4 separate regions of the Homo sapiens genome follow, and regions 2, 3 and 4 are each reported to be linked to region 1. Evidence: microRNA targets listed by miRTarBase, many of them from high-throughput screens and not tested one by one. Region 1 holds a microRNA gene; each other region holds the end of a gene's coding sequence.

Region 1 (7,114 bases):
GACCAGCGGAAGTGGCTGGAGAGGTTCAGACGGTAACTCCCCACTGGGTCTCTGGTCCTGGGAAGGGAAGGGGCAGTGGACGTGAGCCCAGGCTCCGCCAGGTTGGATGTCGGAGTCCCAGAGCCCATACCCGGTCCAGTCCCCTCGCTGCCTGCCGTCCCCACGGGGCCCGTAACCCGGGCAATGCTGACCCATGATGCCCTGCCCTGCCCTGCCAGGCCGGCCCGCAGAGCTCACCCCGGGGAAATGAAGAAGGTGTAGGGCCGGTGGTCGGCACCCTGGAGGGACTCTGGGCGGATCCTCCTGCTAGCCGAGCAGTTGCGCTCATTGGGCCGGGGCTCCGAGTGCAGGTAGACTGCCAGGTAGGGCTCGGGTTCCTCAGACAGGTAGCGGCCTGGGGCAGAACGCGCAGGTCACACGCCTGCCGGGAAGCTCAACCACCCGGGGGACACCCACGATGGCCCTCCTGAGCCCACCCTCTGCCATGGGCCTGAAAGGCCATAGGAGCCTCTGCACCAGAGCTGGCACCTGCTTCTCCGTGGCCCCCAGCTCCTCTCCGGCCAGGCCCCCAGCAGCCCATGAAACAGAAAGCAAATTTCACCAGAGACACCCATGGAAGCCCTACGAGAAACGCCTTCCCCCCAAGAACAAGGCCAGGGGGCCGCGTGTGCCCCAACCGCTGCATGCACCGTCCAGCAGCGTATAGTTGAGCTGCAGATGCAGCACGGCCGCAGGGTTGCTGCTGTCCAGGGTGACCACAGCACCGACGGAGGCCTGGGGCTGGACCACAACGGAGTTGGCGGAGCTGCGGTGGCCCCGGGCAGCCCAGTCCGAGTTGTTGGGCACCTTCACGGTGAGGCGCGCTCTGAGGCCAGCCGCTCGATGGGGATCTGGGCGCCGGCCTGTGTCTGGAACGCCATCGAGGCCACCTTGGTGGAGACGGTGTAGTTGCTGATATAGCCAAAGGGAAAGGGATTGGAGTCCACCAGAAAGATGAGCTGCACCACGTCACTGAGGTTGGCCGGGGCCCTGCTGAAAGCCTAGGGGATGGAGAAGTGGCAGCCAGGCCCTGGGGCGCCGCCATAGCACAGCAGGCTCCGCGGGTCCGAGCGCTTGCCCTGGGCCACGATCTCCTCACCCGCCAGCGTCAGGGGCTCCTCGTTGAGCACGCGGGAGCGCGTGACGATGGGCGTGAGGGCAGAGGTCAGGTTGTAGGCCTGGGACGCCACCATCCGCGATGGTGACTCGGCTCCCAGCTCTGAGCGCTGTGGTGCCCGCACGTCTGAGCTGGCCAGGTGGATGAGGTCTCCTGCAGACAGGCGTGAGGTCAGTGCAGAGACAGGGAGGCAGAGGGAGGGTGGGGGCAGGCAAAAAGGGGGAGCCGGAGGGTGGGGACTGGGAGAAAGGGGGAACCTGAGGGGGCAGAGAGCGAGGTGCAGGCAGAAGGAAGAGGGAAGCTGGAGAGAGAGTGGTGGAGGGGGAGGGGGAAGGGGATGGGGATGAGGACGAAGATGAGGGGGATGATGGGGAGAGGGAGGAAAAAGGAAGGAAAAGGGTAGAGAAAAGAGAAAGGGGAGAAGAAGAGGAGCAGGGTGAAAGGGAGGGGAAGGGGATAAGGGGGATAAGGGAGGGGAAGGGGGATAAGGGAGGGGAAGGAGGATAAGGGGGATAAGAAAGATGAGGGGAATGGACAAAAGGACGGGGAGGATCGGGGGGGAAATGGAGAAAAGGGGAGAGAGATGGAGAAAAGGGATGGTAATAGGGAAGGGGGAGGGGGAGGAGAATGGGAATTGGGGGAGGGGGATAAGGATGGGAATTGGGGGAGGGGGATAAGGATGGGAATTGGGGGAGCGGGATGAGGATGGGAATTGGGGGAGGGGGATGAGGATGGGAATTGGGGGGAGGGGAGGGGGACGAAGATGGGATGGGGCAAAGGCGAGGCGGTTGTGGGGAGGAGGGAGGCAGAGGAAAGGGCGGCATGGGGCGGACGGGCCACGTGGGGCGGGCGGGTGGCGTGGGGCACGGGCCGCGGCACCTGTGATGTTGAGGATGCTGTCTCCGATGGCGGTGGGCGTCACGGTGCCCGCGGTGGTCTCTGCCTGCAGGATGCGCATCATGGCCTCCAGCTTGTGCAGCGTCTGCTTCAGGCACGAGCGGCATACGAGCTCCCTGCTGGGCCCCTGTGTGGAGCCAGCAGTGTCCAGCCCCGCTCCTGGCCCCACTCCTTGCACACGCCCTCCTCTCTACACGGGTCCTCACCTGGCTCCCACCCCCAGCCCTGCAGCTGGAGAGCCCACTTGACTGGACCCCCACAGCCTCCTCACTAAGCATTTTTTGTGGCTCTGCATGACCCAGGGCCTCCACCTGGGGAACACGTGATGCAGCCCACTGACCACACAAGGCACCTCTTCACATGAGAGAAGGAGGAGGGCAGAAGGGAGAGAGGAGAGGGAAGTGGAGAAAAGGGGGGAGAGGAGAGGGAAGGAGAGAGAAGGGGGAGAGGAGAGGGAGGGGAGGAAGGAGGAGGGGAGGGGTGAGGGGATGGAGGGGCTGGGGGAGGAGTGGAGGGGCTCAGCGGGATGAGGTGAGGGGAAGGTCTAGGGGAGGGGAGGAGGGGAAGGGCTAGGGGAGGGGAGGGGCTGGGGGAGGAGGCAGGGGCTAGGGGAGGGGGGAGGGACTAGGGGAGGGAAGGGGGAGGGGAGGGGTTAGGGGAGGGAAGGGGAGGGGAGGGGCTAGGGGAGGGAAGGGGGAGGGGAGGGGAGAGTGGAGGGCACAGAGCAGCATCTTCTTAGTCCCTCCCCACATCTGGGCCCCTCTTTACACCCTGGGTCCCCCGAGAGGCACCCTGCGTTCACACAGGACAGCAGAATGGCTGAGGCTACTGAAGCAGGTCAGAGACCGAGGAACGCCATGGCAGGAAGGAGCCCAGGCTGGAGGCTCAGCTCCTCGGCCAAGCTGCCCGTCTGCCCTGGGGGGCTGAACCCAGTACCCTGGCAGGCATGCGGGGCGGGGAGAGCATGTGGGGCCATCCTACCATGCACTGGGCCAGCGCAGCAGCGATCTGCTGGATGTCATCCACAGTGTGGACCCTCAGGGACACCAGAGTCTCCGTGATGTTCTTGCGTATCTGGGCTCGGCGCTGCCGCTCGTGCTTGGGCTCTGCCGCCACGTCCAGGGCCCGCTCGTACTGGGGCAGGCAGGGGGCACAGCAAGCTGTCAGCAGGGCAGGAGGCCGGCAGGAGGCCAGCAGATGCCCACGACTCCCGGGGTGCAGTTACGTGCTAGATGCTGTGTGATGTGGGCACTGACCCGCAACACTGAGCTGTTTCTTCATGGGCAAAACAGGGTAAGCACATGGGCCCTCCTGGGCGGGGGCTGCATTGTGGAAAGCAGACGCCGGAGAGGGCCTGGTGGGTGTGGCTGCTGGGAGCGGAACGTCGGGGTGCTGCTTCAGGGTCACTGGGATTTATCTCTGGGGCCCGGGATGAGCCCTCCGCAAAGCTCCAGGCAGGGGAACAGGTCTTGGTCCCCAGCACGCATGCAGCAGATGTGAGGTCCCCTCCCAGGCTGCACTCACCTCGTTCAGCACAGTGACCAGGGCCAGCGAGTACTCGATGACGTGCTGGGGATCGGCCTGCCGCAGCAGCCCCGGGAGCACACTAGCGGTGAGCCCGTGCAGCCAGACTGTGAGCCCCATTGCGCTGCCGTTGGGCTCTGGGAGGGTGATGGCCAGAGACCTACGAGCAGAGGGGGGTGGTGAGCAGGTGGCAGTCTCGGGGGCGCCCTCCCACGGCCTGGCTCACCTGTTGAGGGCGACCACAGCGGCTCCCAGCTGGTCCTGCACCACCACGGCCAGGCCCACCTCGAAGTGTGGCCTGAAACCCGGGGGCAGCACGGCTCCGTAGCCGGAGAGGCTGCCCTTGTAGACACAGAACTCCTCGCAGTGGCCCTGGCGACAGCGCTGCAGCAGCAGGGCGTACACCAGCGGGGCGCCAGCATCCTCCGCGTCATGCCAGCCTGAGGGACGGTCCCCACGGCATCACAGGAGGGCTCCGTGACCTCACAGAGTCGGGGGATCCCGCTGCTCCCCCTACGCAGGCCTGCACTCACCCATGCATTCGAAGTGCACCTTGGTGGTGAGAGCGTGCACAGCGCCCAGTGGGAAGAGGCAGCAAGAGCCCCCCAGCGGCGGGCGGTTGGGGGACAGGGGGATGGAGGCGCAGCCCTCCTCCTCGCCAGAGCGGCCCAGCACCGTCAGCGTGAAGGTGTATCCCTCGCCGTCCCGCAGCACGCCCCGCCGCAGCACCAGTCACATGCCTGCGCTGCCCGTGGATGTGGTGGTCTCATCCAGCACCAGCGTCTTGTTGCTGAACGTACGTGCAGCCCACCGCTGCAGGCAGAAGGGATGGTGAGGGGGCGCAACCCTCTGCCCTGTCAGCCCCACTTCTGCCTGCAGGCCCCGTCCCCTCGGCCATGGGACCCATCCCCAACCCGCCCACACCCCGCTCAACACTCACCCCTCGCTTGGAGCCGCTGCTGCAATTGAGGCAGCGGCCCTCCAGGTACACGTAGGAGCTGCGGCTCACTTCGTACACGGCCTGTGCCTTGCAGGACACACACTCCAAGGACACAATGGGCACCCGGCCACTGCGGATCAGCACCTGGCGTGGGAGTGGGGTTACCTCCAACACAGGTCTATTTGGCCTGCTGGAAGGTCTGGGGGACCCGTGGAGGATGCTGCTCCCAAACTCCAGGTTTCCCAGGGGCCTGGCCACTGCCGGTGAGCTCACCCCCTCCCAGGATACTCATCCGGTTTGCCACCTTCCAACCTGGGCGGCGGAAGGGCATACACAGGGCAGAGGACACTGGGGTGTGCGTTCTGGTGTACTGGACCCAGCTGGACCCTGGCAGGAGGCAGGCAATGCTCACTGAGGGCCCCTGGGGGGATGCGTGTGGGAACAGACGTATGTGTGGGTGTGAGGACCGCAGTTGCCACGTAGGCCTGACTCACAGACTCCTGCAGCCCTTAGCCAGGGCCTGGGTCAGGAGGCTGAGCCGGGATGGAACCTGCTCCCACACCCTCCCCTCAGACGACCCCTCTGGGCAGACCCCCAATCAGGCCAGCTGAGGAAAGCAGGGACTGGGGAACAGACACCCACTCTGGGGTACCAGCAGGCCCCAGTCAGGGAGGCGCACACGCTCACAGAGGGCAGGGAGGCGCACACGCTCACAGGCACCTGCTGCGTCCGGTTCTCGAAGGCATTAGATGCCAGCAAGGTCAGGACGTACTCACCTGTGGGGACAGGCCCAAGTGGGGCAGCCGCGGCACCCCCACCTGCTCCCCACCCGCTCGGCAGAAGCCCCCCGCCTGAGGAGCCCGGGGTGAACGGCTGCACCTGCGGCCCAGCCTTAAGGGTCCCAGGCTCCCAAGCCACGTGCGGGACGGAGCACAGGTGCAGCAGCACTGAGGGCTGCCTGGTGAGGACGGCACCGCCTCCAAGTGCAGCTGCACTCGGGGCAGCAGAGCAGCAAGAGCCAGGCCGCGGTGGGGGGCAGTTCAGGGGGCCCAGCTTCCCTGTCCACTCCTCCCACGCCTGGCCCCTCCCTCACCCCAGTAGGGGCCTAAGCCATCAGCCCAGGTGAGGTCACAGTGAGGGCTGTTGGGGAGGAAGCGGGGCAGCTTGACTGGGGGACTGGGGGGGCCCCGTGCTCAGAGCCTGAAAGGCAGTGGCCCCCTCACCCCCTCATCCCTCACCTGGGGCAGCGTAGGTGTGGGTGACATTGTGCTCCACCAGCACCTGGGCCACCGAGGGGTCTGGAACCGGGAAGGACTCGTTGTACGGAGGCTGGAACTGGTGGAGGGCCTGCTCCCCATCCCCAAAGGTCCACCTGCCGGGGCGGTGGGAGGCAGTGAGTGAACCGGGACAGGGGTGCGCAGTGGCGGGGCACAGGTGCGCGGTGGCGGGGCAGGGGGTGCTTGGGACCCAGCCGAGGCTCCACTCTGCAGTCACGCCCCGGGCCTCCATTCAGGGCCCACCCGGCTGTGCTGAGGCCTCTCCCGGCTCCCGTGCAGCCTCAGGGCTCCTGTGCACCCAGTACCTCCCAACAGACAGGGAAACCGAGGCTCAGAAAAGCAACCCCCTGATGTGGGGTCCCTCGGCTGAGGCTGGAGCCGGGACAAGAGCCTGGTGCCCGGACAAGAGCCTGGTGCCCACCCCAAACCGGCCCCTGAGTCACTCACAGGAAGGCCACCTCCACGGCCGAGTCCACCAGCACGCCCGCCGTCAGTGCCAGCGTGGCATTGGGGGACAGCACGGCTGGCACTGTAGAGACCCGCAGGCCCTGCATCCTGTTCATCCGCTCCACGGTGATGTTGTAGTTCACGGTGACGTTGCTCACGTGGTTGGAGGCCGTCAGCTGCAGGGACAGGCATCAGTGGGCCCAGGTGGCAGGTGAGAGGCCTGCCCTGCTTGGCGTCCCTCCCTCCACTCACCACAGCCATGGCAGCGTCCTCGGGCAGCATGAAGCAGAGCAGAAGGCAGAGGTGAAGGTGGAGCCCGCCCCCGCCCCGCCCCATCCCCTCCCCTCCCCACTCCCGCCCACCTACTGAGAGCTTGAAGACCGCCGCGCTCTGATAAATGACATTGAAGACCACGTTCTGGAAGGTCAGGGACTGCTTGTCGTTGATGGTCCACCGGAAGACCATGTCCGAGCCGGCCTCCACCACGGGGCTGTACCTCTGCGGGGGGACTGGTGTCAGCCTGGGCTCTGTGGAGGACTCTGCCCTTAGCCTGTCGCCTCCTGGACACACCTCCCGTCGGGCTGGAGAGTCCCACGCGGGGCACAGAGGAGAGGAGGTGCCCGGGGCTCTGCATGCCATGAGAGCCAAGCCCGGGCTGGGACACTGACTGTCCGGCTCTCCAGCCAGCCATGTAGTACTACTAATGCCTCAACCTCTCTGTGCCTCAGTTTCCCCATCTGTAAAGCAAACCTAGTACCAGCTACAAAGAGTCCACCTCTCTCTGAGTCTTCTCAGACCCTCCCGGGGCTCCTGCCCCAGCTCCTCAGCCAGAGAGCTCGGAGCAGTGAGGGGAGGCACACGGGCCTCACAGGG
Region 2 (7,114 bases), not on the chromosome of region 1:
CTGCAAAGCAGGCTGGACAGGGGAGGGTGAAGCGGGGGCTGGACTGGGCGGTCTCCTGGATCCCATCCTCTCTGAGCTGTGTAGGGCATGTGCTGGCAGGAGGCCAGCTGCCCCATCTCACCCCACCTGAGATTCTCTGTCTCTCTTTGGCCAGTGATGAGGACAACAAGCCCCTGCAGGGCAGTCAGACATCTCTGGACGGCACCATCAAGCAGCAGGAGAGTGACGACAGCCTGGTGGACTATGGCGAGGGTGGCGAGGGTCAGTTCAATGAAGACGGCTCCTTCATCGGCCAGTACACGGTCAAAAAGGACAAGGAGGAAACAGAGGGCAACGAAAGCTCAGAGGCCACGTCACCTGTCAATGCTATCTACTCTCTGGCCTAACGGAGCCCACCCAGGCACAGCCACCACTTTGCAAGTGGGAGGAGGGGAGAAGGGGAGACAAAACCACTGCAGACCTACCACGAAGCCACCACCACCTTCAGTAACAAGGGTACGATATGGGGGTCTGCCAAGCTGTGAGGACCAGTAGCCACCAAGCCACCCACAAGCCCCCTCCCAATGACCCCCCTTCAGCCCCGGGTGCCACCAGTGTGGGAGAGCTGGAGCCGTGGCTGAGCTCAGCTGGAGGGAGCCTGGCCCCTTGCCCGGTCTCGCAGCCACCCCGAGCGTTCCACCACACTGTCCGCCCTTGGCCTCGGCACACGCTCACCTTTTCTGTTGGTTACGGGACTTCTCATTGTCTTAATTTCGCTTTGTGCATCTTCCCCTCCAGACCCAATGTCTCTGTTTTCTTTTCCTTTTGAAAAAGAGTCCCTGGAAAAGAAAGAATAAGTGGATTCTCCCCCAGGAGAATCCTTTTTGCAAAGATAGGCAAAAAGGATTGAATCCATACCAGAACACGTAGACAGGCTGTAATATTCAAACCACCTCTGGGCCAATGCATTTCCAAAGGATGCCTTTCTCGCCATATGCCTCCCCTGGCCCCCAGCCCCTCTGCCTCGGCCTTGTCAGTTGCTGAGCTGGGCTTGGCTCCTTTCTGGAAAATGACAGTATTTTTGGCAGGGAGAAGGTGCGCAGGCCTCCTTGCTGCTCTCTGGTTTGGTTGGGAGGTGTGTTTACCTCTTGCTCCTCATTCCTCCCCTGCCCTTTTCTCTGGAATATCTAAGATGTGAGCTGCATTGACTCTGAAGACGTTTGAGGAACAGGAGTGGGCACTGATAGAAAGGACTTCAACGCCAGTGACTGTGTACCTCCAGCAGAAGAAAATCAGGTGTCTGGTCTTGGGGGCACTGTGCTCACTTCTAGAGAGAAGAAAAAGGCTGGGTTTGGACTTCATGCCTCCTCACTGGTGAAACCCAGGATGTAGATAGAGGGCCACACCCACCCTGTCCAGAGTAGAGGGCACCTGTCCACGTGGCCAGGGCCCATGCTGCCACCCTCGAGGAGATGGAACCCTGTGATGCAAAAGCTTTGCTGGTGTGTTTGGGGCATAAGGCACTGCTCCCCTTCCATCTCTAGCAGATATCATCTTCTCAGCCAATTCTGTAGGACACTGAGGCTCTTGTTTGACATGGTGTGTGGATGGGGACTTGCCCCAAGACTGAGCAGGTCTGCCCTTTCATTGGGGTGTATACATATCAGGGGACCCTGAGGTGGCACCGTACTCAGTGTTGTGATGCCCCCACCTAGGGAGGACTCAATGCTCTTTGTATGCCTTATGCAGCGCTGATCTGTCCCTGGAGTTCCCAGGTTCCCAGCTCCCCCCCTGCAAGCCTTGAAGCCTCCAGCAACGTCTATCTCCAGGAGAGCAGGGCAGCCTATGCAAGTGTTCCGGCAGGACCAGAAGTGGCCACTCAACACACGTCCTCACCAGTCACCCCAAATGGAGACACTCGCAGACCTGCAGTTCTCAGACCGAAGGTGCTGCCTTCATCCTCCCCACCTAATGCATTTTTGAAACCAAAGGTACCTAGCCTCAGAGACAGAGAAGGAGAGGGGGAGATCTTGAGTCTAAGAGGAACCCTTTAGCTGTTTCTGCAGCTGAGGTCAGTTTCAGGAGGGTGAAGCTGATCCCCAGGAATGGATCAGCTGCCATGGGCACAGCCTCCGATTTGAGCCTCTCCGGCTGCCAGCCAGGGGGCCTGGGCCAGACCAGGGCTCTGTCCTTCCGTGACTTTATTAAAGCAACATTTGCCACATGTTTAAGCCGCAAAGGTATTAGCAATGCTTGCATCATTAATAATCATTCAGTTGAAGGTCAAGCCCATAGACACACACTCTCTGCTGGTAAGAAACCATAGCCCAGAACTGAGCCAATAAGGTTGTTTGAACCTGAGAGTGTGTAATGGTCATTTGGGCCAAGCCTCAGCTAGGGCTGCTGCCTGGACGCCTGAGGGGCAGCTTATCACAGTGCAAGGGGACAGGGTAAACAGCAGGGGGTGGGGTGTGAGCTTGGAGGGCCCCTCCCCTGGATTTCCTCCAACACCTGCTTGGATACTAGGCCCACTGTCCCTGAAGGGAATGTCAGGGAAGTGTGCCTGTGAGCTGAATTAAAGGACTGGCCTTTCCAGAAAACGCTTTGGATCTGAGCAGAGTAGTCAGTTTCTCAGACACTCATTCCATACTGCACCGTACATGCCAGCGTACCCATTGCACCGAAAGCAGGCCCTTAGGGCAGGAAGGGACGATGAGCAAGTCTGCCACACCACCTGGTGACTGGGAAGGGCTGCTTCTCTCGTAAGGGTCTTGGGGAGAAGTAAGCCCGCAGCCTGCCTCTGCACCTCGTTCCAGTGTCCTGCCAGGCTCTGTACTGTCCTTTGTGTATGAAGAAAATGCTGTTAGCCCTCTCTCAGGCTGCTGTTCTGTGGGTGCTGAGAGCTGCCCCCCATCACCACGCCATCACACCCCTCTGAGCAGAAGCAAATCTGAGGCTGAAGAATTAAGTTTTCCCCAAGCAAGGAAGGCAGGTGGTCAGAGAGATCAAACGCTGAGGCGTGGGGATTGCAGGATTCAGGAGGCAGCCCCTTTGGGGAAGAGGAGGGTGCATTTTCCATGGAGCCCATGTCAGAGTCCACTCCAGCTCAGCAGGAAAGTGGAATTGCCCAGTACTGCCTGCCAGCTGGGTCTCCCAAGCAACTACCCCAAGACATACCAACAGTGAAGCCAGGACAGCACCATGCCATCGGCGCTCCAGTCTGTCTGGCTGGGAGGAAAGTGCTGGGCATCTTACAGTAACTCTAGAAGTTCCTTTGACTAGGCTGCAATCCCACCTATATGCTCAGCCCTAAGAGCTGTGGTTTCCTGTGCTCTCATTTGTCCATTCATTCATTCATTCATTCATTCAGCAAATAATCTGAAATCCAGTCTGAACTAAGGCCTGAGCTGTGGATACCATGGCGCGTGAGTTAGATGTGGTCCCTGCCCTCATGGGGCTGACAGTCCTAAAATCAAGTGCTAGGACACAGTGGCCATTGAGCTGGGAGCATTCTTCCCTCTACCGCTTAAGCCACTGATGGCTGCGAGCTTGAAGAGAGGGATTCTGAGGGAGAGCTTGGTCCATCTGGTCACCAAGGCTGGGCGGGACAGAGCAGTCAAGAACCACGGTGTGGCTTGAGAAACAGTCCTGCTTCCTGAGCCTCTTTGCTCTGCCTCTTGGGGCAAGCTCCTTAACCTGTCTGTATTTTTATGCCTCTGTCTCCCATTCAGTTCCTCCTTGAATACCTCTTTCTACAGAGAGGCACGGGCTCCCCTGAAGGATTGTCGAGGCCAGGGTTCGGGAAGTACACTGCCATCGGTCAGGGGACAGCTGCCTCCCACCTTGCCTGGGTGATGGTGAATGGGACTCATCTTTTCCTGCCTTGCTTTTGAGGAGATGGTTGAATTTAAGCTAACAGGAAAGCCAAACCAGCACCCTCCTTTGTGCTCTGAGAGGTTGGAGACATCTGGTCCACCCCATTGCCCCTGCCCCTGGCAAGCCCTGAAGTCGGGAGAGGTGACCACAGGTCTGAAAATCAGCCAGTGCCAACATTGCTTGCCCTGCAAGGTGCAACTGAGCCCACATAGCGCATTCATAGTTTCCCTGACCACAGCCTTGGGAAGACGGTGGAAACCCGAGGATGTGTGGGTTTCCCAGCTAACGGACAAGCTCCCCTGCCACACCCAGTGCCCACGCATGCTCACATACATACAGCAGACCACAACCCTGTTGCCAAGCAGTGCTTCCAAGGGATAGCGATCCAGATTCCAACATTGTCTTGGAGAGGGTTAGTCCACATCCAAGTTGCGTGAGATAAGATGCAAAGGGCTCTGTGTGGATGAGGAACGCACCTTAGAGGAGTGGGAAAGGCCACCAGGGTTGGGCCCTGTTTAGGTAATTCCTGTTGGCAGCACCTAGAGAGAGCATCTGAGCTGAAGGAGTGGGAAACTTTGCCCAAGCAATGGCACGGGCAGCGGGCTCTTTCTGGCGCCCTGTGCTGGAGCAGGGCCAAGTCTTAGGGCATCACAAACAGCCCATTTGATGGAGGGAGCAGGGACATAGCACATTTTTGTCTGTCTTTGTGAGGCTGCTTTGCTAACTCTCTGAGGAGAGGAAGCCTCTCGGGCTTTCCGTCGGCTGGGGCTAGTGCCAGAGAATCCCTTCTCAGTGGCCAGCAGGTTCCTGGGAGGCCGGCACAAGGCACCGCTCCCCACTCATGACACCTTGGTGCAGAGTGACCTCCTGCCCAGTCACCACTCCGGCCAGCCCCAGCCAAACACACAAAAGCCCATGGTTGCGGTTGCATCTACACCGTTAGTTGGCAAAGGATCCTGCTTGAGCTCTGCGTGGTGGCCAAGGAGTAGCATGGAGGAGGGCCCTGATTTTAAAAAGGAAAAATAGAGAGGCCTCAAAACAATGAAACAAAGAGCTTGATATGTCAAGAGGAGACCAAGGCCCTGGGAGGCATAGGCAAGCCGGGCAGAGTCAGACCAGTGCCCTCCCTTGACCATCTCCTAGCATTCCTTAACCTAGACAGGGGCTACCCCATGTGAGTCCAAGCCAGACTTTGTGGCTGTCCCCAGCCTGCACAGCCCAAGCCCAGGGAAGTGTCCTTTCTTTCCCTTCCTTACTAATAATGGGCCTTCCTGAGACACATTCAGAGAAGGATCAGAGAGAAAGGAGAACCATCCAGGAGAGCCACAAGCGTCCACCAAACAGTGTCTCAGGCCTCACCTGAAGCTGCTGTTCCTCCTATCAGCACACTAGTATTAAATGGGTGTTCCATAATGAGGAGAATGGAAATAGGTACAAGGCATCTAGCTTAGGACAGAATCGGATTTCGGCATGTGAAGGAATCCCAGAGCTGATCTCATTGAAATGATCTATCGTACAGACAAGGATATGCAAATCCACAGAAGTGAAGGGATTTTTGCTCAAGATCACATAGCTGGTAAACTAAGGTAAGGTTAGGGCTTGAACTTGGGCCTTCTGACTCCTTGTCCAGTCAGTGTTCTTTCATCTCACCACAGCTGCCTCCTTTGAAACAGAGGTATTAAGATCTGTCCTTCTGGTTCACCCTCTCATACCTCTTTACTGCGTCTCCCACATCCCCCACATGCCTCCCAAAATGAAAGACAAACAGGATTGTTTCTGAGACCAAGATCAGTCTGTCTGTGATCAGCCTGTGTGTGGTTCACCCAGTCATGCAATTAAGGGCAGATCTGGGCCAGTGGAATAGGATAGCTGATTGGTGTTTGTTACTGTGAACCCTAGACCGTACCCCGTAGAATGGTGTCTCTTGCTTTGTAACACATCGGGCCTTCAGTGTGCTGTATTCCTCAGAAGTGAGGGCATCTCGGTCCATTCTGCCCATGGCCACAGGGTGCAGAGAGGCAGCAGGGCCCATGCAAGCTGCCACCCTGGGATTTGCTGGGCTGGAGTTCAACAGATGTAAAGACTTCAGTGAAGCAATAAACACAAAACTCTGGGAGAAGATATCCAGAATTTTGTACATTACTCTGTTTCTTTTTCAAAAATGAGGCAGATCAGATGCCCCTGAGCTGCCCCTTTTTTTCTGATTCCCAACTGCAATGTCCTCAGTCAGTGTTGTCCCTCTGCCCGGCTCCCCAGCTCTTTGCCAACCTCTTCACACTCCCCTTGAGCTGAGCATCAGTCGCCTGTGACGTGGCCACCTTCTGTCCTGCTCCCACTCCCGACCCATGCTGGACCCCGGAGGACCTCCTGCCCCGCCCCCACCACACACCCATATCCCCCACCATTCCAATTTGTTCTTTCCCGTGGGGAATTTTTTTTCCCAGCGTCTCCATCCCTTCCTACATATCCACACACACACAAATTGGTCTGATCTTTTTTCCATTGGTTAAACATTTAACTCCATGCCAGACCTTGTTTTAACCCCTCTCACATCATGTTCTTTCCTTTTTTGCGAGTTATTTTGCATTAACCAACTTTGTCAGTGACAGATGCGTATCTGAGGGTGTCACACACGACCTTCAGCAGGGAAGACTTCTGGGCCATGGAGGGCCGTCTAATACATGGACTTATAAACTGACTGCATGAGCAATGAAAAGGCCAAATTATTCTGAATTTTTTTTGAATCACTGTAAAAAAACTGATTTCTTTTGTATAGAGAACACTAAACGTATAATAAAAGTTGTTCAAAATGGACTCTTGCCATGTGATTTGCTCATTTTCTTGATTTGTTCCTGTTGGTAGGTAGGAGAGGGGTGTCAAAGAGCTGATGGCAAAAGTGGATCAAAGGGTTTTTCATGGGTGCCAGACAGCACACTCTTCCAGAATTCTACCATACCATCCCCCCTCTAGAAGTTGTTATTCTCGAAGACTCACTTGCACAATTTGTGTTTTAAACATAGTGTGACTGGTATAGGAATGTGTAATGTGTACAGTCGTGGAGACACCCTCTGATTCAACGTGATGCGTGTGCACATCCACCATTGAAAAAGTGCCATGCTAGGGAAGTCGGGAGAATGGGAGAAATTTGCCATGGTGCTCCGTCTCCTAGCCCCCTCCTCTTTCTGCACCGCTTGCCCTTAGGTCAAACATCAGCGTATGCCCAGCATTGTGCCTGGCACAAGGTAGACATTTCATATTG
Region 3 (7,114 bases), not on the chromosome of region 1:
CCTCCCCCGCCCCTCAACTCCTTCCAGCTCACCTGGACCAGGCCTGGATCCCACTTCCAACAGGTCCTCATGCCAGCTCACACCCCGAAGAACCTTGAGCCGAGCCAACTCAACACCTCGCCTGGTGCCGTCCCAACAGAGCCTTCCATTGGCCCCCACCCCCTCGAAAGCCCTTTCCCAACAACTCATACACTAGCACCTGGGGATGAGGGATCAAAGACAGAAACGCCCTAAGCAAGAAGTATGAATGCCTTAGAACTAACTCTAATAGAGCCCGGGCACTGGAATGGCTAAAGAGATCACCTGACTAGATGGTTACAGATAAAGGTGGGGTACCTTACTCAAGACCACACCAGAAATTAACTACACAACAGGATCGGAACCTGGCGTCTCGCTTCCCAGCCTTAGACCCTTTCCCCACAGATGTTCACCAGTAGACCTCTGCACCCAGCTTCTTGCCAACATTACCCTTTCGTGGGTGTGGGTTTGGGGTTTTTGTTTTTTTTTAGAATGGGGTCTAGATCTGTCGCCCAGGCTGAAGTGCAGTGGCCACATCACAGCTCACTGCAGCTTCGAACTCCTGGGCTCAAGTGATCCTCCCCCCTCAGCCTTCCGAGTAGCTGGGACCACAGGTGCGCGCCGCCACGCCCGACTTCCTTACTGTCTCCGCTACTACTACTTTGTACTTCGGTTATTTAATCCTTCAAAACACTCGAAGTTAAAGCATTTTCATCCCATCTCAATTCGTAACCCAGGGAAGGTCTGCTCATACTCATTTCAGGTGAGCGACTTGCTCCAGTCCCGCCGTGCACGGCAGCGGGGCTGAAACCAGATGACAAAGCGCTGACCGTCGGGGTTCACTTCCCCGCCCCGCCCCTACCCTTGGCCAGGTGCGGCTGCAGCTTCTTCGCACTGAGGAGGCCGGCGCTGGAGATCACGGCATCCAGCACGGCGGAGTAGCGCTGCGTTTCGCACACCAGCGCGTACAGCTGCTTCACGTTCTGTGTGGCCGAGGGAGACAAGCTGGGTCGGGGGCTCCCCCGGCCCTCCTCGCCGGGCCCCACCTCCCGACCCCATCCGGGCCCGTCCCACCCCACCCCGGGTTCCTCACCCCCCACCCCTACTTGTGGCGCCCGGGCCCGCTACCTGGAAGTTGCTGGAGTACACCAGCCCCTTGATAGAGCCCTGGCGGCTCTCCACGCCGGCCAGCACGCCTGCCACCGCAGCGTACAGCCCCATGTTCCCGCGCGCCTTTACGGCTCTGTCGCAAAGCGCACCCGGCTCTGCCCCCGCCCGGACTTCCGGGGTCCAAGGGCATGCCCTTCCGGGACCGGAAGTGCCGGTCGAAGTCCCCCTGCAGGGTGTGTGTGTGATCGCGCACCTGCCGGGCTAGGGAGTGCGACGCTGCGGGCGCACCTGCTGGGGTAGGGAATGCGACGCTGCGAGCCCGTTTCGCCACTTCTTCTCCAGTTCTTCAGTCTTTGTCAATCTGATGGATAAATAATGGGATTTTACTGCTGTTTAACCGCAGTTATTGCGTTGAATATGTTCACATGTGTATTGGTCATTTCATATATATATGTGTGTGTATATATATATGTGTGTATGTGTGTGTATATATATATATATATTTTTTTTTTTCAGACAAAAAGACTCACTCTGTCGCGCAGTGTCGCGATCTTGGCTCACTGCAACCTCCGCCTCCCAGGTTCAAGCAATTCTCCTGCCTCACCCTCTGGAGTAGCTAGGACTACAGGCCCGTGCCACCACGCCCGGCTAATTTTTGTATTTTTAGTAGAGACGGGGTTTCACCATGTTGGCCAGGCTGGCCTCGAACTCCTGACCTTAGGTGATCTGCCCACCTCGGCCTCCCAAAGTTTTGGGATTACAGGCGTGAGCCCCCACGCTGGCCATAATTATGTGTCTCTGTTTATTGTCTTATCTTCCTCTGCCATGTGTCCTCCAATGGCTGTGTTCTCAGGGAGGATTTTTCTGTGTAATGGCAGAAAAGGTCCTAGCAACTCCAGGTCCACAATGTGGTTCATGATACCTGCCACTCACCCTGCACCAGTAACCACATTAGTCCCAGAGCCAAGCAAGAAAGCACGTGGGGTATTTGGGTACCTGAAATGGGCCGGTTTGGCCAAATTAAATGATGTAGTTATGATCCAGGCCTCAAAGCCACAATAACGGTTTTGTTTTTGCTTTTGATGAGGTCCCACTCCGTCACCCAGGCTGGAGTGCAGTGGCACCGTCATAGCTCACTGCAGCCTCGAACTCCAGGGCTCAAGTGATCCTCCCACTTCACCCTCCAAGTAGCTGGGACTACAGACGTGCACCACCACACCCAGCTAATTTTATCTTTTGTAGAAATGCGGTCTCACCATGTTGCCCATGGATGGTCTCGAACTCCTGGCCTAAAGTGATCTTCCCACCTCGGCTTCCCAAAGCAGTGATTACAGGCATGAACCACTGTGCCCAGCGAGGATTTTGTTCTTTTATCTTGAGATAAATGGTAGTCCTCTTAAGGGTTTTAAGTCATGGAGTGCTGTGTTCATGTATACTTCTTTAAAGATCAGTCTGGCCAGGTGCGGTGGCTCACACCTGTAATCCTAGCACTTTGGGAGGCCAAGGCAGGTGGATCACTTGAGGTCAGGAGTTTGAGACCAGCCTGGCCAACATGACAAAACCCGTCTCTACTAAAAATACAAAGATTAGCCAGGCATTGTGGCAGACACCTGTAATCTCAGCTACTTGGGAGGCTGAGGCAGAATCGTTTGAACCTGGGAGGCGGAGGTTGCAGTAAGCTGAGATTGTGCCACCGCACTCCAGCCTGGGGGATAGAGCAAGCTTCTTTCCCCAAAAAATAAATAAATAAATAAATAATCAGTCTGGTTACAGTGTGGGGATATAGGATGGAGGGGACAGAGTTGAGGCAGGGAGAGACCAATGGGGGTCATGGCAGTCACCTAAACAAGAACTGGTGGCCTGGACTGAGTTGGTGGCAGTGGAGTTCGGTTGAAGTTGGCAGTGTGACCGCTAAGTTAAATCCACAGAACTTGCTCAGGAAAAAGGTCAGGTCGAGAATAACTCATAGGTTTTCAGTTTGGGCAGTTGACACAATGCTGCTGTGTCTTTTGGTAGGATGGGGAAACCTGGGGTGGTGGAGTGAACAACGGCCACCCAGAGAGAGCAGGTCCTAATTCCTAGAGCCTGGAAATGTCACCTTCTATGGAAGAGATCTGTAGGAGTGATCAGGGGAAGGATTTGGAGAGAAGGTTATCCTGGATTATCTGGGCAGGTCCTGCATGGCATCACAAGTATCCCTATAAGAGAGAGGCAGAGGAAGGCCTCTCTTATAGGGAGAAGCGCAGTGGGTCACACCTGTAATCCCAGCACTTTGGGAGACTGAGGCTGGTGGATCCCTTGAGCCCAGGAGTTCACAACCAGCCTAGCCAACATGGTGAAACCACGTCTCTACTAAAAACACAAAAATTTGCTGAGTGCACGCCTGTAATCCCAGCTACTCAGGGGGCTAAGTTAAGGGAATTGCTTGAACCTGGGAAGTGGCGGTTGCAGTGAGCCGAGATCACACCACTGCACTCCAGCCTGGGCAACAGAGTGAGACTCTGTCTCAAAAAACAAAAAATAAGAGAGAAGCAGAGGAAGATTAGACCGGCACATACAGAAAAGGCCACGTGAAGATGGAGGCAGAGATTGGAATGATGCGGTCACAGGCCAGGAAACACCAGGGCATGGCAGCCACCACCTGAAGCTGAAGAGGAAAGGGGCAGGTTTTCCCCGACAGTCTCCAGAGGGAGCGCGGCCTTGCCGTCATCGTGATCTTGGACATCTGGCCTTCAGAACCATGAGAGATTAAATTTGTTTGAAGCCACCAAGTTTGTGGTCATTTGTTACAGTAGCCACAGGACACCACAGCCACAGGATAAATCTCAGGGATGGGGGAGTAGGAAGATCATGAGCGCGGTTTTGGACATGCCCTTGACGTCCAGGCGGAGCTGCTGAATGGCTGGAGCGCTACTGGATGTGGCCTGTAAGGGACGGGTCTCCCGGAGAGGGAACTTCTGAGTCATCCCTGTGGAAGTGATGACTGGAGCTATGGGTGTGGAGGGGTAGACAGCCAGAAGAGGAGCCTGGAGGCCCTCAGACCATAAGTGGTGAGGACGAGAGGCTGAATCCTCAAAGGAGACCGAGGAGAGGCAGGAGGAGAGGCAGGGCTGTGGGGAGGCTGAGGGTTGCTGTTCACCCCTGCTAGGCTCCCTCATGCCCTCTCACTGGTCTGTGCACCCAGTTTGACTTCCAGTGGCCAGAGCCAGCATCTTGGTTAGAAGGCTACCCCGGAGCTTCCAGGACCCACTTAGCCTATGAGTATCGTGAATCAAAGGGTTATGGGAGGCTAAGCACAGTGGCTCACACCTATAATCCCAACACTTTGGGAGGCCAAGGTGGGAGGATTGCTTGAGGCCCAGACCAGCCTGGGTAACATAGCAAGATCCCATCTCTACTAAAAATTTAAATATTAGCTGGGTATGGTAGCAGACACTTGTCGTCCCAGCTACTCAGGAGGCTGAGGCAGGAGGATCACTTGAGCCTGGGAGGTCAAGGCTGCAGTGAGCTACAGTTGCACCACTGCGCTCCAGCCTGGGTGACAGAGCAAGATCCTGTCTCTAAAAATAAAGACTCAAGGCTGGGCACGGTGGCTCACGCCTGTAATCCCAGCACTTTGGGAGGCCGAGGCAGGCGAATCATTTGAGGTCAGGAGTTCGAGACCAGCATGGTCAACATGGCAAAACCCCATCTATATTAAAAATAAAAAAATTAGCTGAGCATGGGGTGCACACCTGTAATCCCAGCTACTCGGGAGGCTGAGGCAGGAGATCACTTGAACCTGAGAGGTGTAGGTTGCAGTGAGCTGAGATCGTGCCACTGCACTCCAGCCTGGGTGACAGAGCGAGACTCCATCTCAAAAAAAAAAAAAAAAAAAGCAGACTTGAGCATAAAGTGCTGGGATTATAGGCATGAGCCACCATGCCCGGACTTTTTTTTTTCTTGTTTTCTTTTCTTTTTTTTTTGAGATGGAGTCTTGCTCTGTCACCCAGGCTGGAGTGCAGTGGAGCAATCTCAGCTCACTGCAACCTCCACCTCCCAGGTTCAAGAGATTCTCGTGCCTCAGCCTCCCGAGTAGCTGGGATTACAGGTATGTGCCACCACACCCAGCTAATTTTTGTATTTTTCATAGAGACAGGGTTTCACCATGTTGGCCAGGCTGGTCTTGATCTCCTGACCTCAAGTCATCCTTCTGCCTTGGCCTTCCAAAGTGCTGGGATTACAGGTGTAAGCTGCTGTGCCCAGGCTCTGTGCCTTCATTTAAACCCATGTCTCCTGACCAAATTGTCTCTAAGACTAAAAGAAATGTGAGAAACAAGGAGTCTCCCATAAACAGGGAGTGAGGAAGGCTTGGGAACTGCACGTGTTCGTTTGTTGGGTCTAGAACATGGATCCGCTCTCTTCCCACAATCTGCAGAGCAAGTTTCAGGCAGGGCTGATACTGCCTGCTGCGCAAGGGTGAGGACGGTAAGCAAGGGATGCCTGGTGCTCCTGGATGTTGCTTCTGGCCATTTCCCACCTCTCCCAGCTCCCACTCCTCCTGATATCCTGCCTTACATCCAGCCACCCTGAACTTCTCATAACCAGAGTCCGCACGCCACTCCCCCTTTTACAGGACTGTTCCCTCGGCTTGCCTGGCAAACTCGGGTCCTGGGCCCTTCTCAGCCATCAGGCGTGTGCCCCTCTGCCAGGCCTCCCAGACACCTGCTCCTCCTCTAGTGTTTTGTTTTCTGAGACAGGGTCTCGCTCTGTCACCCAGGCTGGATCATGCAGTAGCATGATCATGACTCACTGCAGCATCAAACTTTGGGCTCAAGCAATCCTCCCATCTCAGCCTTATGAGTAGCAGGGACTATAGGCGCATGCCACCATGCCCAACTAATTTTTTTATTTTTGTATTTTTTGTAGAGACGGGGGTGTTACTACATTGGCCAGGCTGGTCTCGAACTCCCGGCCTCCAGCAATACTCCTGCCTTGGCCTCCCAAAGTACTGGGATTGCAGGCATGAGCTACCCTCCTCTAGTATTTCTGTAGCTTGAGTGAACTTCTGCTGTTCTAGGTACCCACAGTTCACCATCTGCCTCCCCACCTGTCTGCGAGACCCTTGAAGGCAGGGACGTGACTTTCCTCTATCTTCCCCAGGCTCAGTTATAGAGCCAGCTATAGGCAGCTGCTTGGGAGGCGCTGGTTAAGCTGAATGGAGGAACCAGTGGAGCTGAGATGCCCGTGCCCGCAGCCACCAGACCCTGGCTGAGCTCTCTCCAAGGTTATTACCTGGAGGCCATGGAGTGGAACTTCTGGAAGGCAAGAGAGAGGGAGGTTAAGGCTAGAAGGTGGGAAGCCAGGGCACTGTTGGGAAGGGGAAGGCCCTGGCGGGTATGGGGATGGGACGCCTCCCTGTCCACTCACCCAGATGAACTCATGGTGGTCCTCATTGCCGAACTGTTCCAGCACACACTCGGCTTGGGCCAGCCGCTCCCGGGTTCCCTGGGCCTGCTCCAGCTGCATGTCCAGGGAGGCCACCAGGCCACGGGTGTGACCCCCTATCCCCTCCAGGCAGCGGGCCTTCTCCTCGTCCACCGGGTGGCGCAGCTCCTGGAACTCGCGGCGGATCACCCAGCTGAAGACATCCGACTCATTCTGGGACAGGGAGGGCTGCTCACTGCAGAGTCACAGCCGAGCTGCCAGGCTCTGTCTGGCTGGCCTCGGTGTCCCCAGGGCCTTCCTGACCGGGTTGGTCCTGGGACCTGAGTCTCAGGGGAGGCTGCATGGCCTGGCGCCGGGCAGGGAGTTCACCCCATGCATGGGGAGCCCTGGCGGTGGCCGTGGGGAGGGTGGCCCCAGCTCCCATTTCAAATGGAGAGGCTCTGCTTTGGCCTGTTTTAATTTTTAATTTTTTTTTTAACAGACAGGGTCTCACTCTGTTGCCCAGGCTGGAGCGCAGTGGCACGATCATAGCTCACTGTAGCCTTGACCTCCCAGCCTC
Region 4 (7,114 bases), not on the chromosome of region 1:
TTGTCAGCCTGGGCACAGGCTCCTACTATTAATCGAAGCCTGGCTTATTAGCAATGTGTCGGTTTCATGTTAATTATCATTTTCAAAGCCCAGGTATATCCCTCCCTAATGCTTTGAAAACAGTTTTCAATGGACTTTTGAGAAATGGGAAGTCGAGTTTTCCTCTTCCCATGCGCTGCCTGCCACTCTTGTCTCAAAACAGCAAACTAGTCCGTGGGCCGAGGCTTTTCGTTTCCCGGAGTGTGGATCTCGATTAGCCAAACATTTTGCGGAAGAGCCCGGCCTCATCCCCCAGGCCCAAATGCTCCTTACAATCCTTTTTGCCTTTAGGTCGGGCCGACCCGATCCAACGCGATCGCGGGAGCACTTGCTCAGGCGTAAGCCCCAGGCAGACGCACCGTTAGAAATGGTATCCCATGTCCCTGGGACCGATCTGTCCTTGTCACCCACACTTCGTTTATTTCCTGACAGTCCTGTAAATCTCCCAAAAGTGCACAACAAACAGGGAGGACACTGCAAGCCCAGTATATAAAAGACCTGGGAGCTGCGGCGCTGAGAAAGGGCGCGAATCATGGTGGGGCACAACAGTAGGGACCCGCGGAGGGGCGGCCGCGGACTCCTGCCCGACCTCTGTCGCCTTGCCGAGTAATCCTCGCCTTAACTGCTGGGGTCTTCGGAAGAACCTCTAGCCGCCGGGCTGGAGGGACGCAGGAGGTGGTGGGGGCGGGCGACGGGCGGCTGTGTTACGAGCTGTGACCCGTGTTCCCTTTCTTCCCCGTAGACTCCAGCAGCAGGTCCTGTCACAGGGTTCCGGGCGGGCACTACGGGCGGAGGGCGACGGCACGCCAGAGGTGCTGGGCGTCGCCACCAGCCCGGCCGCCAGTCTATCCAGCAAGGCGGCCACTTCAGCCATCTCCATCACGTCCAGCGACAGCGAGTGCGACATCTGAGTTGCCCATCCAGGATGCTCAGAAGCAGATTCCAGTGTAAAAACGAGAAAAACAAAATGAAAGAGGGGAAGAAGATGAGAGACCTGCAAATCCAGCGCCACAGAAGCCAGGTGACCAGGGACCCGCGGGCTCGGGTTGCCGTTTCCCGCCCCACCCCGCGGCCGGCCTGGCTTCACTGGCGCCCTTTGGCCGCGACCACGGGAACCAGCGGTGAGGCCTGACCCAGCACCACGTTCTTCTTGCTTTGCTTTTTCCTAAGGATTTTGCTGCAAAGTCTCCTTCGGAACCCGAACTGCAAGCTGAGCGCCTGCCCAGATTCTCCCATGGGTATTTCACGTCGAAAGGACGCTGTTACATATGTATAACTTTCGCTTTAAAGTTTTTTTTTAACAAAACATATATATGCTGTTTATTTACTTATTTAAGAGACCGCCATGGTAGGTTTCTCTGTAGCTTGGGGAACTTGCTGTTTCTAAACATGCAGGCTGGTGGTGATGGGTTCTGTGTGGAGAAGCCAAACAATAAAACAACCTAGTGGGCAACCTTCTTAATTAAGGGAGCTGCTCTCAGATTCCTTTTCTTCTTATTATTATTAATATCATTCCCTTCACCAGGCATGCAGGGACCCTTGAGCAAATGGTCTCCGGAAGGTCTTACCTATATATCTTTTGCCTTCTTTGGTGCTTCCTGGTATATGTTTTAAACAACCTATGGTAGGTCTATAACCACCTCCCACGTCAAATTACACGTATGTGCATATATGTATGTACCTATACAAACATATGTATGTACCTATACAAACATATGTATGTATGCATACACGTGATATATTTAAGGCTAGAAATTGGCAACATGTGAGCGTCCTCTCTAAGGCAAGTCCCCGCATCCCCAGCACAGGTAATTATGGCTTGTCCACTTGACACTCGTTTACATGAAGTGTCAACAGCTTTCAGGAGCAATTTAGGAAGCCAAACTATGGGACTCAATAAGTGAGTCCTATTTTCTAAAAATGCAAAACTATCCTGACTCAGGCTCTGCAGCAAGAAAGGCTTTCTGTCTCCTTCAAGGCCCCCTCCAATACAAAAGCAGCAGGCACCCATGATCATGCTAGAGTGAGCATATACTGCATTTAGGATTGAGCTATTATTAAAATAAGACAAAAGATGATAGAAGAGGTTGTAAATAATTAGACTAACATCTTCTTGCTGCAGAATTTGGTTTTAATCAAATGAATGGTTTTTAACAAGAGGGATACTGAGATGGGGGAAAGGATGTAATCATGTCACATACTGAGGGTAAAACAAGGCTGTAGAAATAACTGGCATTTTAAAAACCTAATCTCCGAATTAAGCATAGAACAAGTCATCAAGGGCCTCATTGTCCTGGTAATGGCCTCGATTAAAACATAAAATATTTTTAGCATTTAATTTTTCCTCGTGCACATGCATGTATGCACCTATACATGAACAAATGCATGCATATACAACGCAAAAACATCTACCATCTTTGCACTAAGAAAATAAATGCTAGCCAGAGTCTCTAATTTTGTTCCTAGTGAAACAGATTGCATATTATAAAATTTGACATTGATCTTTAAATCACTTGAGCTGACTTCCCTCTTTACTGTCCCCATCCCCCAATTACAGCCTTTTCCATTTGCCTTTCTGTCCTTAGAAGATGTTCTTTGGATCAGAAGCCTGCTAACTTCTTTAGGCAGAAGTGCCAAAGTGCAAACCAAACAAAAATAAGTGAAGTCATGGAAGACAAAAAGCAGCCAAACGGCAAGATAGACAATGGAAGCCCAGGACAGAGTAAGGGTTGATTTTTGGTTTCTAAATCGCTTGAATAGATTTGGCTCATTTGGGCTTTATAAATGTTGTCCTTGTGTATGGTGGCCCTTATCCAGAGAATTCTTGAAAATCAAAACTCTCTTGCACAAGAGCTTTACATGGAAGGAGTGGGTAAGTTTTCGTGATAAAACTGGTGTTCTTTCCAAAAGCAAGCAAAAGCCCTCCTGTGGGTCCTGAAAGGCTCCCATTGTAGAGCTTCCTCAGTACTTAATTTTGTTTCCTAGAGCCCCAGGTAGTTCCTAGAATGCTAACGAGGGGCTGGCGAGGACTAGAGTGAGGCCAGGAGGGGACTCACGGTCAAGGTTATGCAAGTGCAGCAAGTGCAAGGCACATGAGATTGAGTGCCTCCTTAAATTTTGCACTCTAAGTGCCTCCTTTGCCTCATCCTAGTCCTTAATCTGACAAGGAGTAGCCACGGATATCCACTCTTGTTCCCCAGCCCCACCCCACCCTTAGCTATGGGGCTGTCCAGAACCAGTGTTTGGAGAAGTTTGTTGGCAAATTTTCTCTTAAGTTTATGCTTCCAAGTCCTAGAGGGATGGGAAATAACTAATTAGTGGAATAATGTAAAAGAATTTGAGATTCTAAAAATCCCACTCCACCCACCCCTTCAAATGATACCTAAAAGCAGAAGAAAATGTCCATTCCGCAGTGTCAAGAAAATAGGGTAACTAAGAAACTAAGCTTTCTCTTTACAAAATAATTTTTAAGTGACAGTTTATTGCTTGGACAAAAAGAGAAGACCAAACAGTGATGGAGCATTTTTAATTCCTGCTTTGACAAAAGCCTTTAAACTACAGCTACCATTTACTTAAATTAACAAGCTGCCTACATTTTAAAGTAGCTATTCTGTTTCAACAATCTGGATATTTATTTATTTAATTTCACTTTAGAATCTTAAGGGGGTGACACATTACTTGTAAGATTTTTTTAAATGTTTATCTGTAATGTGATGGCACCTAATTGCCTCTGTGAATAACCAATTCTTTGGTGACCACATATTGGAAATTAGTCCAGATCTTCACAGAGATTTATTTTATTTTAATCTTTCCAATCTTCCCAAGGACATTTAAAGGGTTTCTTTTTAAGACTTTTTCCATATCAGCTTCATTCTGGTCTTCAGGGTTTTGGGGGGAAAAAAAGTCCAGGTAATGGCAAGGCTGAAGGTTTCTGAATTTGGCAAAATCTCTATATAATGGGTTTCCTTCCTTTCTTTTCCTGCAATTCTTCTGTCACAATTTCCCAAAAAGCAGCTACTCCAGCAGAGTGGAAAGAGCATTTTTATATTAAATATTTCAACGGACCTGACCAATGTGAAGATTTTACCCCAAGCCCCAGGTCAGGCTCTTTTCCGGCTTATAAACATTTCAACCACACTCCAGTTTCACCAAAAAAAACGACGGCCCCTGCTCCCCAAATGCCGCAGTTCCTCTCGCCTCCACTTTAATGACCCACTCCACTTCCACCCGTCACTCCCTCCTTTCCCTTCGCCAGTTTGTTTATAAAAAATCTGGGAGGGAGGGGAGAAGACGATGGGGGTGGGGAGGGCTTGCTCTTTGTTTACATTAAACAAATGACAGGCAAAGAGCTCAAGCAAAGTCTTCCTTGACCTCGTTCCCTCTCCCTAATTTTAACAAAAAGGAAAAAAATATTGTATCCAAAGAGAATGTGAATGGGGCGGGAGGAGAGGAGAAGCAGCTTTTCGCTCTATTCAACGGGGACGCGAGAGCGCGGACGATTTCCGCTCCTTTTGTGAGGCGGAGCCCGGGGGCGGCCGTGAATGGGGGGTCTGTGGAGCGGCCGGCGGGGCTGTCAGGCGGCTCTGCGTAATCAGGGCTAATGACGGCGGCCGGGCGCTCGGCGGGACAATGCGCGGGGCCGCGGGGTTTTGTCGGCCTGAATGGCTAATAGGTTTGCCTGTGAGCTGCGAGGGGGCGGTGTCGGGGAGGAGGCGGCGGCGAGGGGAGAAGGGGTCATTGTCCGCGCGCTGGCCCGGGCGCCGAGGCGTGTCCCTGCCTGCGCCGCGCGGCTACCCCCGTGCCCGGCGCCGCCGACGGGAAGGCAGCGGCGGGGAGGCCCCCTGGAGGCCTGCTGGGAAATGGCGGCTGGAGCGGCGGGCGCGTGGGTCCCCTCGGGGAGGCGCCCCAAGCCACGGTCCGCTCCCAAAGAGAAGCCCAGACTGGGCCCACAGTACCCGGGAAGGTGAGTCCTTACTCGGGGGCCCAGATCTCCCCACGGAGGCCACAGATCTGGGTCCCCGAGGAAGGAGAGCCCCCCTTTTCGCGCACCCACCTTTTCCATCCAGCGCCCCGCGAACTCGCGGACGTGTAGGCCTCGAGCCACTCCTACTGTTGGGCTGCGTGACTCAGCGGCTCGAGGAGAGAAACCTCTCAAAACCGGGGGACCGAGACGGGGTTCAATTTAAACCTAGGTGGGAGAATGAGCCCACAAGCGCGCGCCCCTGCAGCTGCGGAGGCGCGCGCCCGCCCACCCTCGGGCGCCTGAAGTCGCAGCGGTTGCAGAGCCTCGAGCCCGTGGATGCGGCGCGCGCCGCGGTCTGGGCCTGCGCGAGAGGCTGCCGCCCGCGTCGGGCCTGGGCCTACGCGTGTCTGGCCTGGGCCTGCCGGTGCAACAGCAGTTGTCGCCACCGGTCCTAGGCCGCGCCGAGCGAGTCGCCGAGAGGGGCGGGAAGAGGGGAGAGGTCCGAGACCAGGGAGCGGGACCTAAAGGGGGCTTTCCGCGCCCGACAGGTCCGCCGGGGTTAGCCTTCGAGGCGGGGAGAGGGAGCGGGGTCCTTCAAGGACCGCATGTTCGCGATAGCACATTTGAGCCCTGGCAGGCCACCTGGGCCGCCTTCTTTCGGAAACCTTGCGGGGTTTCCAAGCAAGGTTTACAATGGGAAACTTTATTTCCCATTGTAAGCTCTTACAAATCTCCTCTGGCTAGATCCTTCCTTGCAGCTCTCTTTGCTAGGATTTATATTCCCAAACTTCTTCAGACGTGCCCTACCGCGAGGGAACGAACTGGTTTTCTTCCCGTTTTCACCTCCTTGTCTGGAGACAAAGGGGTGTGAGGGCGATCCCAGAGCTGAACAAGCAGTTTCACGCCTCCCTGCCCGCTCATGCTGTTTCCGCTTGCCCTGTGGTTTGCTCTGCCTGGAACGCCGCCCCCTACCTCAACTGCTACCCTGTCATTCCACAAAGCCTACCCCACCTCCACTAAGTTTTCCGTGAGCCAGTGAGCTCCACACAGATAATGTGCCACCACCTTTTTTAATGCTCCCACCGCACCTTATCTAAACGTCTGTTTTAGCGCTCTAACACTTTTGCTCATTTATTTGTCTGTCTGACTTCCCCCTTCAGCCTTTGCTAGAATGTAAGCTCTTTATTTAAAGGCAAGGACCAACTCTTACCCATCTTTGTATTCCCAGCACCTAGCCCAAGTAGTAGGTGCTCAATAAATGTTTTAAAGCTGAATGAATTCATGCATCTTCCTTGAAATCTGTCTGCTCTTACGTTAGTGGGGGACCTCTGCTAGCTCGGGAATCATTTGAAGAGAAGAGATGACTTATATTGGCTGGACCCAAAGTTCACTGTAATCCTCCCAGCTCAGTAAGTTACTGGCTGTTACCTACTTGTCGGGTTCTCTGGGATGATTCCATAGAGTGCTGTCTCCCTCTAGGCATGCGGTTTTTTTAGAGTGCTATGACTTTGGGTTCATACCATGAAAATTATCTTCTCACACAACACATTTTCCCAAAAAGGTAAGAGTAATCCTCTTGGATTTTGAAAATTCTAGGTATTATACTCTCTGAACCCTACAACATAAGAATTTCTATTCTGCTTCAAAGATAACTGCTATGGTTTAATGTTCATATCCCTCCAAAATTCATGTTGAAACTTAATCCCCAATGCAGTAGTATTAAGAAGTGGGACCTTTAGGAGGTGATTCACTGCCCCATGAATGGAATTAGTGCTTTTATAAAAGGGCTTGAGGAAGTCTATTATTTCCTTTTTGCCCTTCTGTCCTTCTGCCACGTGAAGGTGCAGGAAAAAGACACCATCTTAGAAGCAGAGAGAACCAGCCTTTACCAGACACAGAACCTAACCAGGCTTTGATCTTGCACTTCCCGGCCTCCAGAACTGTGAGAAATGTATAAATTACCCAGTCCAAAGTATTTCCTTTATAGCAGCAGGAATGGACTAAGACAATAACCCTTTCCTTTCTCCTCCCTCCCACCTTTTCTCTCCTCTGGCTTCCCCACCTCACTCCAGTCCTGACCTACACATGATAAAGTAAACCACAAAAACAAAA

The links. Region 1 holds the annotated microRNA hsa-miR-6511b-5p (CUGCAGGCAGAAGUGGGGCUGACA, at 4,433-4,456, opposite strand). A microRNA usually pairs through its seed, bases 2 to 8, with sites in the 3' UTR of a target mRNA and lowers its output. Matches are read on the target gene's strand: a 7mer-m8 pairs with bases 2 to 8, a 7mer-A1 pairs with bases 2 to 7 and ends in A, and an 8mer does both.
Region 2: the mRNA of NFASC is a reported target of hsa-miR-6511b-5p. Seed matches in the 3' UTR shown: 7mer-A1 at 1,770-1,776, 7mer-A1 at 4,040-4,046 and 7mer-m8 at 5,063-5,069.
Region 3: miRTarBase lists TRIM73 as a target of hsa-miR-6511b-5p. Seed matches in the 3' UTR shown: 8mer at 6,125-6,132.
Region 4: the mRNA of SIX6 is a reported target of hsa-miR-6511b-5p. Seed matches in the 3' UTR shown: 7mer-A1 at 1,033-1,039.

What each region holds. Positions count from the first base shown.
Region 1 is chr16:16,321,931-16,329,044 of GRCh38, reverse strand. It overlaps MIR6511A2 (microRNA 6511a-2), which reads right to left and starts at 4,457; the gene lies at 4,391-4,457. It also overlaps the pseudogene LOC131696449 and the pseudogene PKD1P1. RefSeq lists enhancers at 4,068-4,870, 4,940-5,795.
Region 2 is chr1:205,016,154-205,023,267 of GRCh38, forward strand. It overlaps NFASC (neurofascin), which reads left to right. Exons shown (of 30, transcript NM_001005388.3): 30 at 155-6,669. The coding sequence ends at 386. Among named protein-coding and RNA genes, the nearest start is that of CNTN2, 24 kb to the right of the region's middle. RefSeq lists enhancers at 1,832-2,629, 2,630-3,425.
Region 3 is chr7:75,404,493-75,411,606 of GRCh38, reverse strand. It overlaps TRIM73 (tripartite motif containing 73), which reads right to left. Exons shown (of 5, transcript NM_198924.4): 4 at 6,538-6,768; 5 at 6,002-6,425. The coding sequence ends at 6,399. LOC124901676 (a long non-coding RNA gene) reads left to right here and starts at 1,254. Exons shown (of 2, transcript XR_007060389.1): 1 at 1,254-1,424; 2 at 1,645-3,899. It also overlaps the pseudogene NSUN5P1. RefSeq lists an enhancer at 532-1,472.
Region 4 is chr14:60,510,303-60,517,416 of GRCh38, forward strand. SIX6 (SIX homeobox 6) reads left to right here. Exons shown (of 2, transcript NM_007374.3): 2 at 782-2,548. The coding sequence ends at 950. It also overlaps a transcript of C14orf39 not described here. Among named protein-coding and RNA genes, the nearest start is that of SIX6, 4.7 kb to the left of the region's middle. RefSeq lists enhancers at 712-1,483, 4,557-5,058 and a silencer at 4,780-4,949.